Linked DNA regions of Homo sapiens. The protein of the gene in region 2 interacts with the protein of the main gene of each other region in a pairwise test. Each region holds a gene or a part of one and is shown on either strand. Other genes may lie near its edges. The genes, in order: MEOX2 and DYNLT5.

The links.
Region 1: the proteins of DYNLT5 (region 2) and MEOX2 interact in binary tests that used the Homo sapiens proteins (3 or more experiments, as listed by UniProt).

Annotation. Positions count from the first base shown.
Region 1 is NC_000007.14:15,675,403-15,684,560, forward strand, and holds part of MEOX2 (homeobox protein MOX-2), read right to left. Parts: intron 6,579-9,158; exon of another isoform or gene 3,512-6,578; intron 2,246-3,511; exon of another isoform or gene 2,061-2,245; intron 759-2,060; exon of another isoform or gene 618-758; intron 1-617. UniProt on the Homo sapiens protein: Mesodermal transcription factor that plays a key role in somitogenesis and somitogenesis and limb muscle differentiation. Required during limb development for normal appendicular muscle formation and for the normal regulation of myogenic genes.
Region 2 is NC_000001.11:66,754,782-66,763,939, reverse strand, and holds part of DYNLT5 (dynein light chain Tctex-type 5), read right to left. Parts: intron 8,297-9,158; exon of another isoform or gene 8,288-8,296; coding exon of another isoform or gene 8,220-8,287; intron 1-8,219.

The DNA.
Region 1 (9,158 bases), on a different chromosome or scaffold from region 2:
TTCCATTTTGTTCACTTAAAAGCAGTAGTCAACATTTTAAGTGATGCTGAAATTTATTTTTATTGGGAAGACTAAAAACTTAAGGCTTCAAAATATTTTACGAGATTTTCCTTTTAAGGGCACTAGGCTGAAGTCAGGATATGGAAGCTCAGCTGCCACTACTTGGCTGAATGGACAGACATTACTTAACTTCTCTGGGCACATTCCCTCATCTAGGAAATACATTCATTGAACTGGGTAGTGCCTTGAGGCTCTTCTAGTGTCTTGATTATTTTGATTCTAATCATCTGTTTAAATATTACAGGTTACAATTCATTAAGAAAACTTTGACAAATCAAGCCTCCTCTAAAATCAAAGAGTCAACGCACTGGTTGATGCCGTTGGACCCTTCTTGTCCCTGCTGTGTATTATCGGACATTTAATATTTTGCTCTTCTTCCTGTACTCTTCTACCTACATCCTCCCAGTTCTTCTATTATCTAACAGAGAAACACTCTCTGTTCCTTTAAACTTCTCTTGTTTTAGGGATCAAATTGCTATGGATCTGAAAATGCTTAAAAAGTTAACTCTGCATTTGTGATTTTAATATAATGCTTGATTCTATTATTTATTCAAAAGGCACTGTAGAAGTCTCGCATATATGATCATTTAAAATTTCGCTGAAGTCATGTCTGAATTCTGCACACTGCCTTATGGATGTGGGAGAGGTGACTAAACTGAGTCAACGCAGTCAACCACCCAGGACTTGCAATTCCAGGGGTTTGTTGTTCTCTTTTATCTCTATCTAAGTGATATTTCTCAATAACGTATTAAATATGCAAATGTGAACAAACAAATAATTAAAATATGTTCTTTGTAAAAAGAAATTATATCACCAAAATAAAATTCTGTTCATGCATTTTGTGTGGGACATACATGTTTTCAGCTTTTAGTAATATTTGCACATTTGCCATTCCTAAGGGTCTGCAACTGGAACTGCTAAAAATAACAGAGCAACAATAAGAAAATTCTCTCTGCAATAAAGTTTCTAACATAGCAGGAAAATGTCATTCCCACCCTCCTAGTTAACAGCTAAAACAGAGACCCAAAATTTCATTGTCATATTTGAATTCCTTTTATTTAAATTCTGTTTCCTCTTGACTAAATGCCCTGCCCCTCTGTACACTCCTTTTAAAAAGTTAAGTTCTGGCCGGGCGCGGTGGCTCACACCTGTAATCCCAGCACTTTGAGAGGCCGAGGTGGGCAGATCACTTGAGGTAGGTAGTTCGAGACCAGCCTGGCCAACATGGTGAAACCGCGTCTCTACTAAAAATATAAAAATTAGCGGGCGCCTGTAGTCCCAGCTACTCAGGAGGCTGAGGCAGGAGAATCACTTGAACCCGGACAGCAGAGGTTGCAGTGAGTCAAGATTGCGCCACTGCACTCCAGCCTGGGCAACAGAACAAAACTCGGTCTCAAAAAAAAAAAAAGAGTCCTCATTTTATTCTTTATTTTGCTCAATATGCACTCTTCCTGAAAACAGCTTTTCAATGGAGAAGTAGCAGGAGACCCAAGAGAAGAGGAAGTTAGGAGAGGTCCAAGTAAAAGAGGCTGTGGAATGGAAATCTTAAGGGTGGGAAAGGCAACTTGAGCCTCTTACATAACTTGGCTAGAATTCACCTTACATTTCAGGGAAATTTCATGCCGTTTACAATTCTAAGGACAATGATTATTTTAAATCTTTAGTAATTACTTAGGCAAGTTACATTTCCTATAGCAGTATTTGTAATAAAATGCAAACAGGTAGCATAAAATAGATTATTTTCAGATGGTGCATATGCATTACATAATTGTACATTCATTGATAGATGATAAAAATAATAACTGACACTTTACTAAGCCAGACATTGTTCTAATTGCTTTGTGTATATTAACTCAATTTCCTTTTCAGAAACGATGGTAGAGAAAAGTTAAATTTGTGGCCAAGAGGTGACAATAGTAAGAGACACAGCGGGGGTTTAGCCCTAACTATTGTGTTCTCCCAGATATGCTTGCCTCATTTCTTCTTCGGTTGACTCTTAGGGTTGCATCCACCTAACCCTCCGGGGTTCTGGCTTCGGATAGTGTTTGATCAATGGAAGCAACAAAAGAAGATTGGAGGACATGAAGACAGGTTACTGGATGATATTCGACATGAGCTGCAATCCTCCATCTGAGGTCCCAACTTTTCCAGAAGGCTTCTGTCCTGTTGCGCTCATTGGATTCTGGTAAGAGGTCCCTGCATTTACCCTCTCAGGTTAGGGGTGCTAATATATTCCAACTGTGGACAGACCCTGGGGGATTCATCATTTCCTGTGGTTTCCCTACATTCTACTCACCATCAAATTGCCATCATCAAACTCTCTTCAATTATCCCTTTGAGTGTGACATCTATTTCCTTGTCTAATATGATAATTAAGAAATAGGATAAATCTTTTATGATTTATCAACTAATGGCTAAATATGCAAAAGTGTTGCCACTTACTTATACTTTCCTAAACATCTGGGTATTCTAGAAAATAAATTATACAGCTCTACTTCCAGGAGCAAAGAATAGTTCTGGAGGAAAAATTATTTATAATTCCCTGAATTTTGAGTGTGGACATTCACAAGACTGTAATCTTAGAAACATGGGTGGCAGCAAGCCTCCAAATAGGGATGCCTAAACTCTGACTTTCCTGTCATTTTAATATGTCTCAATCATTTTTACATCTACATTCTGTCTAGTTTAATGCATCCAGATCTGTTTATACTTCAAATAAGAAAAAGAAATTCCCACGTAAGCATAGCCTATAGGTGAGAAAATTTTAATTGTTAAAGGCACTACACATACTAAGACCTCATTTTATCTTTGAATAATATTAAATAAGACATCACTTGATTCCAACCTATGCAGTGAGTGCTAAAGCATTATTTATATGGTTCTTTAAATGTGAAAGTTATTTGCTAAATTGCTGTTGTTCTACAAAACCAAGCTAGTCCCCATTACGTTTCGGATAACACATATTTATTTTTCTGAATAGTTTCCTGTTTGTGTTACCTACCAACATAAATCAATGATTTGCAAAATTTGCTTTGCATTCATTGTTAATTTGATAAGAGGCATGCCCATTTAATCTTTTCAACTAATAAGAATACACCTCAGTTTAGTTTGCTAGTTTTTTGGGTGGCTAAGAATAACCATCCAAATGTTTACTGTGCAGTCCAGACAGTGGACAAGCTACCTCAACAGACTCTGAATATATTTCACTACTGCATTTGCAAATAACTATCACTTTGCAAAAATAAGTTTTCATTTGGGTGTCATTTCTGGCAAAAATTTAAGGCTATATTTTCAAAGAGTAAAATTCTAGGCCTTTAAAATTCTACTGGCATCTGCCAACCTAAGCTGGACCCTCCTCTAGGTTTTGCGGAGCCTGACAGATGATTTCACCTTAGTCATTTTCTTGCCCACAGTCACGTAAGATAACTGCGAATTTGTTTTTTCCTTGTAGCATTATGGGATTCTCTTGAAGTGTGTGAAGAATAATGAGCTAAATAAAGAGGAAAAACAAAAGAAAACAAAAACTGCAGGGACTTTTATAACTATCATTGATTGCCAGCTTAAGCCTGCTGGACTCTTCACAAAACTATATATGCTTCAAGCTTAATATTTAATTTTGTAATTGGAACATTTATAATCATATTATGCATTTAATAAGGATGCTCTAATTCAGATTTACTATTATCAGGAAATTAAATTTGGAGTTACAGTAATGCATGCATATATATGTGTGGGTGTGAGTGTGCATATACCTATATATGTATATACATATATAAAGTAAACGCCTTCTTTTAACGTGTGTTTTAAGTATAGCTTCCATGTCCTAGTTAATTCAGCACCCTCCCTTTTATCCTTTCCTTGCCATTGTCCTCTCTACTAGACTACAATAAAAACAAAAAACTATGAAAGTAAGCAGCTTATAATCATAATTTTAATCAATGTAGCCTATGCAAGCTTTAAGAAACATACGTCTAACATCTTAGAAAGAAAGCTTATGAACACAAACAGCAGAATACTTAAATACATTTGAAACATTCACATTGAATTGATTCTACAAAATTTTGAAGAGCAACAGCTTTTGAATTTAGAGCTATAATCAGTACCCTAAAGTTTTTACCACTGAGTTACTACCTAGTAAAAATATGTTATATTTGCAATAAAAGTACACATTGTAAGGACATAAGAATTGTCATCAAGGTACACAAACATTTTAGAATTATTAAACATTTAAATAAATGGAAATTTTAAAAATAAAATAACAATATTATCATACAAGTTAATGATCCAGTTTATTAATTTCTAATTCTATTGATAAAACAAGGGATTATTTTTGAAAGGGTTTTTCTATCTTTCATACAAACCCTTTCCAAAAATGTATAGATACAGTACGGATTCTACCTGATCATTCTTGTGCATATGGTGATGTAAGAAACCAAAAAAATGTAAATTATTTTCATAACACTGTGAAAACCAATATTTAAAAATACAGTGCACAATTAGTAGTGAGTAACATATATAAATTTAGAAATATTATATTTCTGTACACAAAGTAACATTATAAATGAAAGCTTCAGGAATAATGAGCTACTTATTATTCCGGAAATTATATATCAAAAATTTCAAATATAGAGGAAAATTAAAAACCCACTCATGACCCATGAAAATTAATAACCCATTCGATCATACACTTACCATGTAACTTTCTGTTAATTTGGTAATAAATAATGTCAAGAGATTTTAAATGAAAATACTTATTCTGAAACATAAAAACAACATCTGAGATGAGCACAAATGGATCAATAGATACATTATTGATTATTTTGTATCATAAAATACTATCTAGTACAACATTCTTTAAAAAATTCAATATTTTTATAATGTAAGTAAAACGGGAAGAACTGTTAGAGAAATGGGCATCAGATTTAGATTAATTCTGCCTCTAACGCAAATTGTAGGCTGAGCCCTATATGTTCTTGACCATTCTAAGTTTTACTACATTAAAACACATAAAATATTCTGCGAGGTTTTCTCCAATGGGATTTTGAATCTCACTGATGACTGTGATTTAGGAGTAATGTAGAGAGTTTTGCAACTAACTTTACTTTACACCGTTACTCCTTTTCTACTTGGGGGTTCAGTTCAACACGCTAGTAAAAGAAATAGTCATGAGAGCATCCTAAGGAAAGTAGGCAAAATGTTAGTGCCTCATTATATTTACAATCTTTACAAAACATGTATGTCAGTAAACCATATTAACATCTAAAGCACATGATATGTAGAAACAAATTGTGACTACAAAATGTGTCTTGTTTCTTAAATATGCTAAATAGGAAATAAATCACATCTACTTCAATTTTTAATCTGTGGACTTTGGCCTTAGTTTGTGTTTTATTTTATTTTTTTGCTTTTGATTTTAACCACTGAAATCATTTACCAATACTATAAGCCAGGAAATACAATGTAACTGGCCAGTTGAGAATTAAGCCTTCTCTTTTTATTATTACAATCAAGGGGGGAAATGCTTATATATCTTCCTGCACAAAATGTTTCATTTATCAAAAAAAAAAGTGAGAAAAATAAAGAAAATTTGGGTGAGATAAATAATCCACAACTATTAATTCAACAGATATTATTTAAGAAATTCCTACCTGTAATTTATTTTCTAATATTTCTGCATCCTTAGTATTTATCGCTCAAAGATATTTGCAGCCCTCATAGCAGTGCTTGGAAAAGAGATTTGCTCTGAAAATTTAGAAATAAATTCCTGAGGTGAATACAGTTCAAAACTAAAATATATTGCTGTATTATATTGGTTTTTCTCATTTGAAATTAAAATCTAAAAAACCTTCATATTAGGTTGTGTGTGTCAAGCTGCCATTATAAAAACACTAAATGAATAAAATTTCGCAAGCAAGGCAGCATTATCAGGCTAAGTACATGTAGTGGGCTTATATATGGTGATGTTTTACATAATTCAGCTATTAATTCATCTATAGATTTACATTTCTTAAGTGCAAAAAAAAATGTAATTATTTCATTACATATGGAATTCACCTCCCAAATTTCTCAGAATCTAAGAGAAAGGATTGACATTTTCTGATATTTCATTTTTGCTTAAAATTAAGTTCTTAGGATGTTTAGATTTTATTATAAATATTACAACTTAAATTCCAGAGTTATAATGAACGGTCTATGTTTTGAAACACAGAGGGAGAATGGGGTAATGACTGAAGTACTGTTTTTTCAGTTTATTAGTAAAGATCAGCTTATAAGATGTCATTGTAAAGGTTTCTATTGATAATTACCATAAACAAAGATTAAAACTTTAAATACTAAGTTCTGGATTTCTAAGCCCGGTGAAAGTTTGTGCAATACCATGCCTTGCATTTATGATTTTTCTTTTAAAATGAACTATAAATGAAGAAATTTACACAGAATTGGAAACTATTCCTACTTTTATTTGCATTCTTCCTTCCATTCATTGCTAATGTTCAACAATAAAGCATTTTAATTCTAAAGGAATTGTTGCTTTTAACTTGAGTGTGATTATTTTAGATCACATTTTAGAGCCCTCATGTAGGTCAATGATACTTAGAATTTTTTATGTCAGATTACCATTTTTAAATGTTCACACCTAAAATTAGTCTACCAGTCCAAGATAAAGAATGGAAGTTTTTTTTTGTACTCCATTTGATTTGTTCAATACTTCACTTTAATCTTCAAGATCCAGTATATTATTTTTTAAATTCTAAAGCAAATGCTGAAAAGCCACAATCCAGTAACACAGAAATGAATAATAACACTAATTTATTCCTTTCAGAAAACACAATGATTGAAATATCTTGGAAATATTACAATATCATACTGAATGAGGTTGATAAGGTATTACTCTGAGTTTAAGTTCCAACTTATTAAATGTAATATTTGCTAGTCATTCTGCATAGTCAAGCATATAGACAGACATAATTTGACAGCAAAGGTTTTATGACATAGTAGCTATAAATAAAATATTTGTAATTTTACAAGAATCTAATATGATTCAAAACCTAGTAAAGTCTACCTCCCCAAATCGCTCTTTTCTTTTTTGATGTAATTTCTATTTTTTATAAAATATGTATCATAAATTTGAATAGAAAATATCTAGATATGTACACTGTATAACCATGCACAAAAGCTAAAGTTCGATCAATGAATTAATTTTAGTTATTTTAACTAAAACTGGGCAGTTTATTCCTACTACTAGATTGCTCAAAGAGCAACCAAATGTAATTGAAGCCAAGCAATTCACACTATTTATAGACATTTTTCAGAATCACCTGCTTTGTAGTGATTTTTTTCAGCAGTTGTAAAGTTTTGATTTTTAAGAGTCCCTTTGAAGACGTGGCAGATGTTGGCTTTGCTAATAATGCTGGAAAGCGTAGCAGGTTCAAAGTTACAAAAATGTTTAACACATATAAAATATAATGGTGTGTTTTTCTATTAAATTTGGTTATTTTCAATTGTCAATAAACTTACATAAAGGAAGCCTAAAGTCCATAAATATTTGCTTCCAAAACATGAAGCTGCTAGAGTTTGCATATGTGTGTGTCCATGTGCATTTGTGGAGGGAAAGTGCATAAAATATATGCTAGAGAAGCTTACGTATTATAGTTTTAAATCGTTACTATGAATAAAATTGTAAGGTTTATAAATATTTAAGCTGTTTTTCAATACTTTCTGGTGCTTAAAATTCTATTAGAATTTAACACGGTAATTAGAATTAGCACATACACATACAGTCTAAGTATTAGATGCAGGGATACAGAATTTTGGTCCTGACTTTACCCTGGATTTATGTACTGAATTTTCTCTCAACCATAAATGCAAAGTAATTATAAACTACCTAACAAAATACAAATGATCTCACTATATAGGATGACATTTTTATCTAATACAATTTTAAATTTCAGGAGTTCCGAAATCACTTCAATTTTATATTTTAGAAATATTGAAATACTAAAATGTGCTATAAGCAATGAGAGATATACGTATTAATAGCATACCAGGATCATAATCATTTTCAATATTGTTTTAGTTTGTGCTAGATCAAGATGTCTATGAAATAAAATATCTTTGAAGATAATTTATGGAACACCTAATGCAATTGTTACACGAGAAAGATATCTTTAATTTAAATCTATCTCAATATCTGACAAATATACCTTCAGCTGAAATTGGCAAATAAAATTTTATTTTCAATAAGTGTACATAGATTTAAACAGAAACTATTGTGATTTTCCTTTTAGTCAATATTTCTTCAACATATCAAAGGAAAGAAAAGCTCATTCTAAATCCCCAGTATTTTTATCCTTGGTGATGACTAATTGTACTTTCCACTGAAGTTTTAATCTGTTAATAATTTATGTAGCTGACACAAACACTTATATTTGCTTGTTTTTCCAGTACCCTCATTATCAGCTTCAAAATGTAGAAATGAATTTAATTTTGTTAAATGGTTATTTCCCACTAAGTTGGGGGGGAGAGATAAATTAGTTTTGTTAAATTATTCCATTTTTTAAAAAAATTATTAAAATAAATTAAGGGAATCAGTTATTGAATTCCGTTTTCTCAGTTTTCCCCAAACAAAATAACATGTGCTTGTATGAAAATTGTTTGCCCTGAGAAACTTAAGGGCAATGGCTCAGTTCAGGAAGCATGAAGAACAATCTATCATGTAGGTTTCTCATTGCAAGAAATAAAATGAACCGTAAGAGCTTATGGGAATTGCAAGAGTACGCTCATCAACCCGAACTGGGATCTGCTTCCAAAGTTACACTGATATCAAATGTTCAGTTTATGAAATTGTCACTGCATTCTAAAATCGACTGTTTTTCTAATAAAAATTGAAACCTTTTTGCTATGATTAACCTTTCAACTCACTATCTAAAGAGAGTTTCACTTATAGTTAGGAAAATACATTAAATATCAGTGACACTACTGGTAATTTTCTTATAAAAACTAATTTGTGATGGAACATTAAAAGTTCACCCCCTGACCTTGGAAAATAAAAGTTAGCTTTTGAGACCGTGAGAGAAGAATCCATCCTATAGTAACGCTGA
Region 2 (9,158 bases):
TGCTAGGATTACAGGTGTGAGCCACTGCACCTGCCTGAAAAGTTCTTGAAGGAAATTAAAAGTGTCACTTCCGTGAACACATGAATGATAAGAAAGCAAAACAACCTTATTGCTGATTTGGAGAAAGTTTTAGTGGTCTGGATAGAAGATCAGACCAGTCACAAATTCTCTTAAGCCAAAGCCCAATCCAGAGCAAGGCCCTAACTCCCTTCACTTCCATGAAGGCTAAGAAAAGTGAGGAAGCTATGGAAGAAGTTTGAAACTAGCAGAGGTTTGTTCATGAGGCTTGAGGAAAGAAGCCATCTCTGTAACATAAAAGTGCAAGGTGAAGCAGCAAGTGCTGATGTAGAAGCTGCAGCAAGTTACCCAGAAGATCTAAGATCATCGGATAAGCTAAGATCATTGATGAAGGGGCTACAATAAGCAACAGATTTTCCATGTAGATGAAACAGTCTTATTTCAGAAGATGCCACCTAGGGCTTTTATAGCTAGAGAGAGGTCAATGCCTGGCTTCAAAGCTTCAAAGGACAGACTGACTTTCTTGGTAGCAGCTAATGCAGCTTGTGCCTTTAAGTTCAAGCCAATACTCATTTACCATCCTGAAAATCCCAGGGCCCTTGAGAATTATGCTAAATCTACTGTGTTCTATAAGTGAAACAAAAAAGACTAGATGACAGCACATCTGTTTTACGGCATAGTTTCTTGAATATTTTAAGCCCACTGTTGAGACCTACTGCTCTGAAAAAGAGATTCCTTTTAAAATATTACTGCTCATTGACAATGCACCTGGTCACCCAAGAGCTCTGATGGAGATGTACAAGAAGATTAATGTTGCTTTCATGCCTGCTAACACAACATTCATTCTGCAGCCCATGGATCAAGGAGTAATTTCGACCTTCATCTCATTTATTTACTTATTTTTGTATTTTTAATTGATGTATCATAGTGATACATTTTTATGGGGAACATGTGATATTTTGATACATGCATACAAAATGTGTAATGATCAAATCAGGACAACTGGGATATCCATTGCCTCAAACATTTATCTTTTCTTTGTGTTGGGGACATTAAAATTCCTCTAGCTATTTTTTTCCCCTAACCCCCACTAGCTATTTCGAAATATATAATAAATTATTGCTAACTATAATTTCCCTACTGTATTATTGAATACTAGAACTTATTTTATCTAATTGTATTTTTGTATGTATTCACCAACTTCTTTTCACCCCATAAATCTTACGATTTAAGAAATTCATTTTGTAAGGCTATTGCTGTCATAGATGTGGATTCCTCTGATGGATCTGGGCAAAGTAAGTTGAAAAGGATTCACCATTCTAGAAGCCATTGAGAACATTTATGATTCATGGGAGGAGGTCAAAGTGTCAACATTAACAGGAGTTTTGAAGAAGTTGATTCTAGCCCTCAGGGATGACTTTGACGGGTTCAAGTCTTCAGTGGAGGAAGTAACTGCAGATGCAGTGGAAATAGAAAGAGAACTTGATTTACTGTTAAAGGATACAAAATTATAGCTAGATAGGAGAAATAAGTTCTAGTGTTTTTACCACTGTAGGGTGACCATAGATGAAAATAATACATAGATTCAAAGAGCTAGAAAGAGGACATTGAATGTTCCCAACAGGAAGAAATACTAAATGTTTGAGATAATGGATATGCTAATCACCGTGATCTGATTACTATACATTATATTTATGGAAAAATCACTATGTACCCCATGAATATGCATAATTGAAATTTTCAATAAAAAACATAAAATTTAAAATGGTTAAAAAAGAAATGGAACTTGAATATGTGGCTGAATTGCTGCAATCTCATGGTAAACTTAAACAGATGAGGAGTTGCTTCTTACAAATGAGCAAAGAAAGTGGTTTCTTGAGATGGAATCTACTTCTGGTGAAGATGCTGTGAACACTGTTGAAATGACAACAAATAATTTAGAATATTACATACACTTAGTTGATAAAGGAGTGGCACGGTTTGAGATGAATGGACTAATTTTGAAAGAAGTTCTACCATGGTAAAATGCTATCAAACAGTATCACATGCTACAGGGAAATCTTTCATGAAAGGAAGAGTCCATTGATGTGGCAAGCTTTAAAATTTATTTTATTATTTCATTTCATTTTATTTTTATTTTATTTGAGATAGTGTCTCTCTCTGTTGCCCAGGCTGGAGTATAGTGGTATGATCAAAGCTCACTGCAACCTCAGCCTCCCAGGCTTAGGGATCCTCCTGCCTCAGTCTCCCAAGTACCTAGGACTACAGGCAGGTACTACTATGCCTGGCTGATTTGTTTGTAGGGAAGGGGGTGTCTCACTATGTTGTCCAGGCTGGTCTTGAACCCCTGGCTGCCGTGATCCTCTTGCCTTGGCTCCCCAAAGTGTTGGAATTATAGGCGTGAGTCACTTTGCCCAGCCTGTTGTCTTATTTTATGATATTGCCACAGCTATCCCAACCTTCAGCAACCATATCCCTGATTAGTCAGCAGATGTCAACACTGAGGCAAGGCCCTCCACTAGCAAAAAGATGACAACTTGCTGAAGGTTCAGATGATCATTAGCATTTTTAGCAATAAAGGATTTTTATACTAAGGTATGTACATTTTTTCTTTAGATAAAATGCTATTGAATACTTAATAGACTACATACAGAACAGTGTAAACAATTTTTATGTGCACTGGAAAACTAAAACATTCATGTGACTTCCTTTATTGCAAAATACACTTTATTGCAATGGTCTGGAAATAAACCTGCAATATTGCCAAAGTATGCCTGTAGTTTTTAGGTATTTTACTCACATTATTTGCTCCATTTTACTAGTAAGAGAAAGGCTATAATGGAAAGAAAAGATAATTTTCAAAAATGAAAGAGGCAGGAACATGACAAATGACACTGTCTTGTGGAACATATTTTTTTCGAGTAGAAGTGATGCTGAAGGATAAAGAATGAACCATGCAACCTGTGAAAAGCGCAGCTCTGGAGTAATTGAAGGTAATCCAGAAATGGTGATTGACAAAGTACAACAATTTTAAGTATGTGGATAGAAGATCAGAGTTAGTGTCTGAAGCCTGTTGAGCTAATGCTCATCCAAGAGCAAGGGAGGTGATAGTTAAGCACAGCTGATGAACTTTTGTTGCAGCTCTTGGATGAAATGCATTGGTTCAAAGCTGTGTCACGCTGGGCAATCATCAGAGGTGATGCTGGTAGTGCAGGTGCCATGAATACCTCTACAAAGCTGTGGAGATCATCAAGGAGGAGTGTGGCCTATTACAACAGATTTCCAACACAAATGAAACTGTTCTTTTGGGTTTTTTAAAAATAGATGCACAATGGAATGTGTCAGCATGGAGGTAAAGGTATACATTAAGAAAATCTGAACAAGCATTTTTCTATTTGCTGTAAATGCATCTTATGTCTATAAGAGGAAAGCCCCTAGTCAACCTGGACTTAACACATGCATGGACCTGTGAACCTAACTTGTTCGTGAGCAAAAGAAACTTGCTTGCTCAGGAATTGATAAAATGCAACAATTATTCATTCGATGATCACAAAATATGTACTGAGTGACTATTATATGCCAGGCACTATTTTAGGTCTTTGGGATGCAATACTGGAAAAAAAACAAAAACAAAAACAAACTATGGTCTCTGCTCTCATGGAACTGTTACTTTAGTAAGGCAAGACAGAGAATAGACAATAAAATACTAAACAAGCAAATTATATATTATGATAAAAGGTGATACATGCCTCAGGGAAGAGAAAAAATAGAGCAGGTTAAGGGAGTTTGGAAGTGGGTGGAGGAGAAGATGTGATGTGCAATTTCAAATGAAGTGGTCAAGGTAGGCCTTCATGAACAAAGAAAGGAGGTGAGGAAATGAACCACATGGATGGCTGAGGGAAAGGTATACTAGGAAGAGAGAACAGCACATGCAAATGCTTTGAGACAGGAGGCTGCTAGTGTGTTTGAGAAAATGCATAGAGACAAGTAGCAGAGGGAGGAAGAAGAAAAGGAGTGAAAGAAGATAAAGTTGCAAAGGTATCAGGTAGCTAGATCATGTAGGGCTTTGTGAGCCATTATTCTGTAAGCTCTTACTCTGATAAAGCAGACACACCCCTGTATTTTCTAAAAACCATTAACTTTCTTTGCCAAATGGCGATATCAGGTTTTACTCTCACATGCCTTGCCAACATTTGGTATTATTCTCTTTTCTTCTGTTTTGCCATTTGGATGGGTGCAAAATGGTATTTTGTTTTAATTTATATTTTTTCTGCTTGAAAGTGAGTTTTAGCACCTCTTCATATTCTGCTTAGCTATTTGGGCTTTGTTTCTGAAAATTGCTGTCTTCTTTGACTATTTTAAAAATTGTTTTCCTAGCATAAGTTGTTAATGTACAGGGTTTAAAAAAACGTGTATGTATCTTCAGCCAGCCTATTAATTATGTCTATTGTATCCTTTGTTGAGCAGAAGCCCTAGATTTTATTGTGGTTATATTTATCCAAAAATTATTTTGCTCTATGGTGTGAGTTTTCATTTTGGGATCTTCTTTCAGAAATCTTTCCTTACTCCTAGAACATAAAGATATGGGCCTGTGCTTTCTTCTCTTAGCTTTGTTAATAGATTCCCACATTTTGGTCTTCCATCTGGAGTTTACCTATGCAAAGCATATAAGGTAGGAGGCCAGCTTCATTTTCCTCCCTATAATGAGCCAGTTTTCTGCCAACACAATCTATCATTTCCCCATTTACAAACATAAATGGGGATAAAAATATCTTGTCTGTTTAACTTACACAGATATTGTATGTGAAATGGCTTAATAACCTAAAATGACAATACAATATTAGTTGTTATTGTGGTTTCATTTGGAAACATGGCCATTTCAGTTTTCCCAAACTATTTTCTCTTTTTGGGGGAGGCTATATCTCAGGTAGGTCTTGTTGGGGGCTTTAGTTTAACATACATGGTGATACAACTTATCTCCTAACTCTGATCTTCTAATCTCTAGCCTTCTCCTTCAGGTATCAAAATGAAGAAATTGTTCTGGCAGCACCATTTTCAATTGCCCGTAAACAGCTCACAGTAGTATAGATTGAATGATAGAATAAATTCATTACTGTTGAAATGAAGTAATGAATGCAATCATTTCCATTTTGGTCACTTTTACTGGCAAGACCTAGACAATGTGAAAAAAGTTACCAGGCAGCTCTCAGTTTCCCTGAAAAATGAACTTATCTAAATTAGAAACCTGTAGTTATTCACCTTTATATGCCTAATATGTGGCACAGTAATTGGCACATAGAAGCTAATAAATCCTGAATAAATGAAGAAATACATATAGTGTGGCCTAACTGGTATGTTAGATGCCATCAGTGGGTTCACACGGGGAGCTGTGGGATCCATACAGAAAGTTCTGGTAACATGACATCACTGTAATTTTGGTTTGAGGCAAAGGAGAGAATGTTCAGCCCCCAACCTTGTCCCTAATCTACTAGTGGAACTCCTGGCCTCACAGATAACAAGCCTAGACATCATGTCACATGATCCTGTGAAAGTAACTTGACCTCATAGCTTCTGTTTCCATTTTAAGGAAATGAGAGAAGCACATCTGTTCAAACACTGTTCAGTGTCTGCCAAAGTCTGAGCTTCCAATAAGAAAGATGTAATTGTAAAGACCTGCTCTTACTGTGGACGGGAAACAGAAGGTTCTGGTGAATGAACAGAATAGTTTTATTAATGCAAATCACACATGGATTGCCAATTTTCAGGAAATGAAAATACTCAACTAATAAACAAAAGCCCATTTTTGCTGCTTGTTAATTCTGTAGCTTTGGAGCCTCAATCTCTCTAAGCTTCTGCTTCTTCATTTGTCGAATGGGGGAGATAATAACATCTATCTTTATAGAGCAGGAGTTGGCAAACATTTCTGTAAAAGGCCAAATAGCAGATATTTTTGGATTTGCAGGCCCTACGGTTTCTATTGTAACTACTCAACTCTGCTGTTACAGTGCGAAAGTGGCCAGAGACAACGCACAAGTGAATAGGAATGGCTGTGTCCTAATAAACTTTATGCATATAGAGATTTGAATTTCTTGTTATTTTTACATGCTGCAAAAAAAACTGTTCCCCTTTTGATTTTTTTCACCTATGTAAAAATCGTATTTAGCAAAACAGATGCAGATTGGAATAGGCCCTTGGGTCATAGTTTGCCAACTCCTATTATGGAGCTTCTATGATACATAAATAAGGTTCATCGCAAGGGCCCTATAAATGTTAGCTATTATCATCCTTATTATTATAAATTGTTCAGGTAAAAAATAATTTGAAATTACAGATGGAGTATGATGACCACTGTGTAGTGTACTGTCTGGACTCAGACAGCATGGGTCTGATATATGTATGTCCAGGTCTAACAGAAATATGCCAACACACTAACAGTTAGGATAATAAGATCCAGCTTAAGATGTTTCTGTTTTTTCTTTAATAAAACATAAAAATTACATTAAATTGAAAAGATAACTTAAAAACAGACCCAATCTTGAAAACAGTTCACAATAATATTTAATATAAATTTAATCTTCTTTTTGTAATTCAGAAGGCATTTCAGATATTTATTCTGTCTGGGGATCATTGTTAAGCATTAGTTACAACTGTGGAAGACTGTAGACATGGAAACCAAGACTGTAGGGCTAAATCTGTGCTGATCTTATACCACATATAAGAAGCAGCTTTTCAAGGAGGTCTACCTTTACTCTTCATGTCCTCCTTATAAGTGTGGTTACCGCTAAAAAGACAAATAAGTCCATAGTCTGTTGAAAGAGATAGACAAGCAAATCACCAAATATAGTGCATATCGAAGGCAAAAGCAGTAGGAGAAGAAAGGCAGATCATCCAATGCAGTCTGGAGGTAAAGGTGGTCATAGATGAGTAATTAGAGAGCACTTCCCAAAAAGGTGGAGATGGAGCGAAATTCTGATGGAAGAAGTGAAGAAAGCCAGGGGAATAGTGTAAGAAGAGCATTGCAGGCAAGGAGTCGGGGTACCCCATGGGGAAGCAACATGGGGCAATGGCTGGGGGCCAGATAGAGCACTGAGGAATAACTGAGTATAGCTGGAGGGGATGATGCCCGCAAGATGGTGGGGAAGATGGTGCTATGGAAGTAGATAGGGGTCTGTGGACTTTGTATCTCATAGTCAGGATTTGGGACTGTATCCTAATCATTAAGTCAAATTACTTGACCTGTAAACTTTAGTTATTTCATAGTAAAGTGGTAGAAATGATGCCTACCTAGTAGGATTAATGCGGGGGAGATTCAGTGAGATAATGTATTCAGTCCTTAATAAACTTCAGAATGTTTTACATTATTGAAATTTATATTTTCAAAATTGTTTTAAAGTAATTTTCAAATGAAAGTTATATGTTTTTCCATAAAACACTGCAATTTCAAAACAATGCCTGTATTTGATAGTCACTAAGCTTTCAGAATTTTTCTACTAGTTGAAGCCTCATTCATGAAGGAGAATAACTTGTACTGTCTAATTCCAGACAGTGAGGAAGCCAATGGAAAGCAAGTATTAATACAAGTTAGCATGGGGTGGGGGAGCCTCCTAAATAGTCTGCATTGCAAGGGGACTTGGAAGCTGATCATTTGCTATTTAAGAAAAAAAGTACAAATAGAGGTTCCATTCTAAATGTTTTGTTTGGGAGTCCAAAACCAAAATAGTTATCATTTAAATGTAGTTGTCAGTGAAAAATCTATCCTAATGTGTTGATAAATATGATTTTTGTATTCTTATTTTTAATATGTATTTATATTCATCAATAATAGGTTAAAAAGAGTGATCTCTAATTCTTCAAATGTAGCCACACTCTGATTCTATATGACAAATTTGTTTTGAAGGGGAAAAGATAAGTAAAAGTCATGCAAATAGGAATTACAATTTAATCTTTGGAGACAGTATTTAAAAAAATATCATGGGTACGTAATTTATGTCAGACTATTACTTAAATAGTTTCTTGGAAAACGTAAGTTGAATTTAAGCCAACAATCAGTTTTAAATAATTTAAAAAATAACCCTTGCACTTAACTATTGGAAATAGCAGCCAGAAAAGTTTAGAAGCAAAAATTACAAAGATTAATCATTCTCCCACCTTTACTTCTGACATGTGCTGGGATTGCTACTCCTTTATAGTCAGTTTCCCACCTGTAAAAGGCATTGTATGTGTAATCCACAGACTTCCAGGGCTGGAATGTGGAGTTGCAAGTAGGCATTAATACACTCTGAGAATAGAAAGATTTTGGTTTCAGAATTCTAATTATTCCAGTTCTTCTACTCTCTGTTCTGCAGGACACCCTAGCTCCTGCTTCCCAATATATACTCAATATACAACATCCTCCAAAGCTATAGAAACTAAGAACGAAAGTCTATTATTAATTGACTGCTACGTCGATAATTTGTTTTGTTTTCTTCCCAACAGCAGTCAAAAGGAAATGCCATGAAAATATTAAAAATTGATGTATATCTTTAGGAGAGAAGATGCAACATGTAGCAAGAACCAAAAAATCTACTTATTGCCCTTTGACCTACTAATTATTCTTCTGGGAAATGACCAAGCACAGACATATAGTAAAAAAGAAAAAAAATGGAAACAAACTTAAAGTGTCCAATAATTAGAGAATGGTTAAGGAACCCAGAATCATAAATTGACAAAATATTATGCAGTCATTTAAGAGGATATGGAAAAAACTATGAAAATACATGACAAAATTATATACAATAATGTTAAGTACATTGTATATGTATGTATTGATTACAAAAATGCAAAACCTATGTTATAAAATATTGAGGAGAAGAACTCAAAAGACATATAAGCGTGTCTGGTTTACATTGCATGTGGTGTTTCTTTTGAGCAGAGGGTTTTTTGGGATGATTTTTGAAATAGCAAAAATGCTGCTAGGATTAACTTATCACTTAAGCTTTCTCTCTTTCTCTTTCTTTTTAAATATGGCCCCTAAAGATGACCTGCACCTTGTACTTGCCCATTTTATCTCTTTTTATGTCCCCGAGGAAGTGTTTTTTTCTCCTAATAAACATTACGAACCTATTTATTCAATAAATGAATTTACAATTTTAGACAGTTAC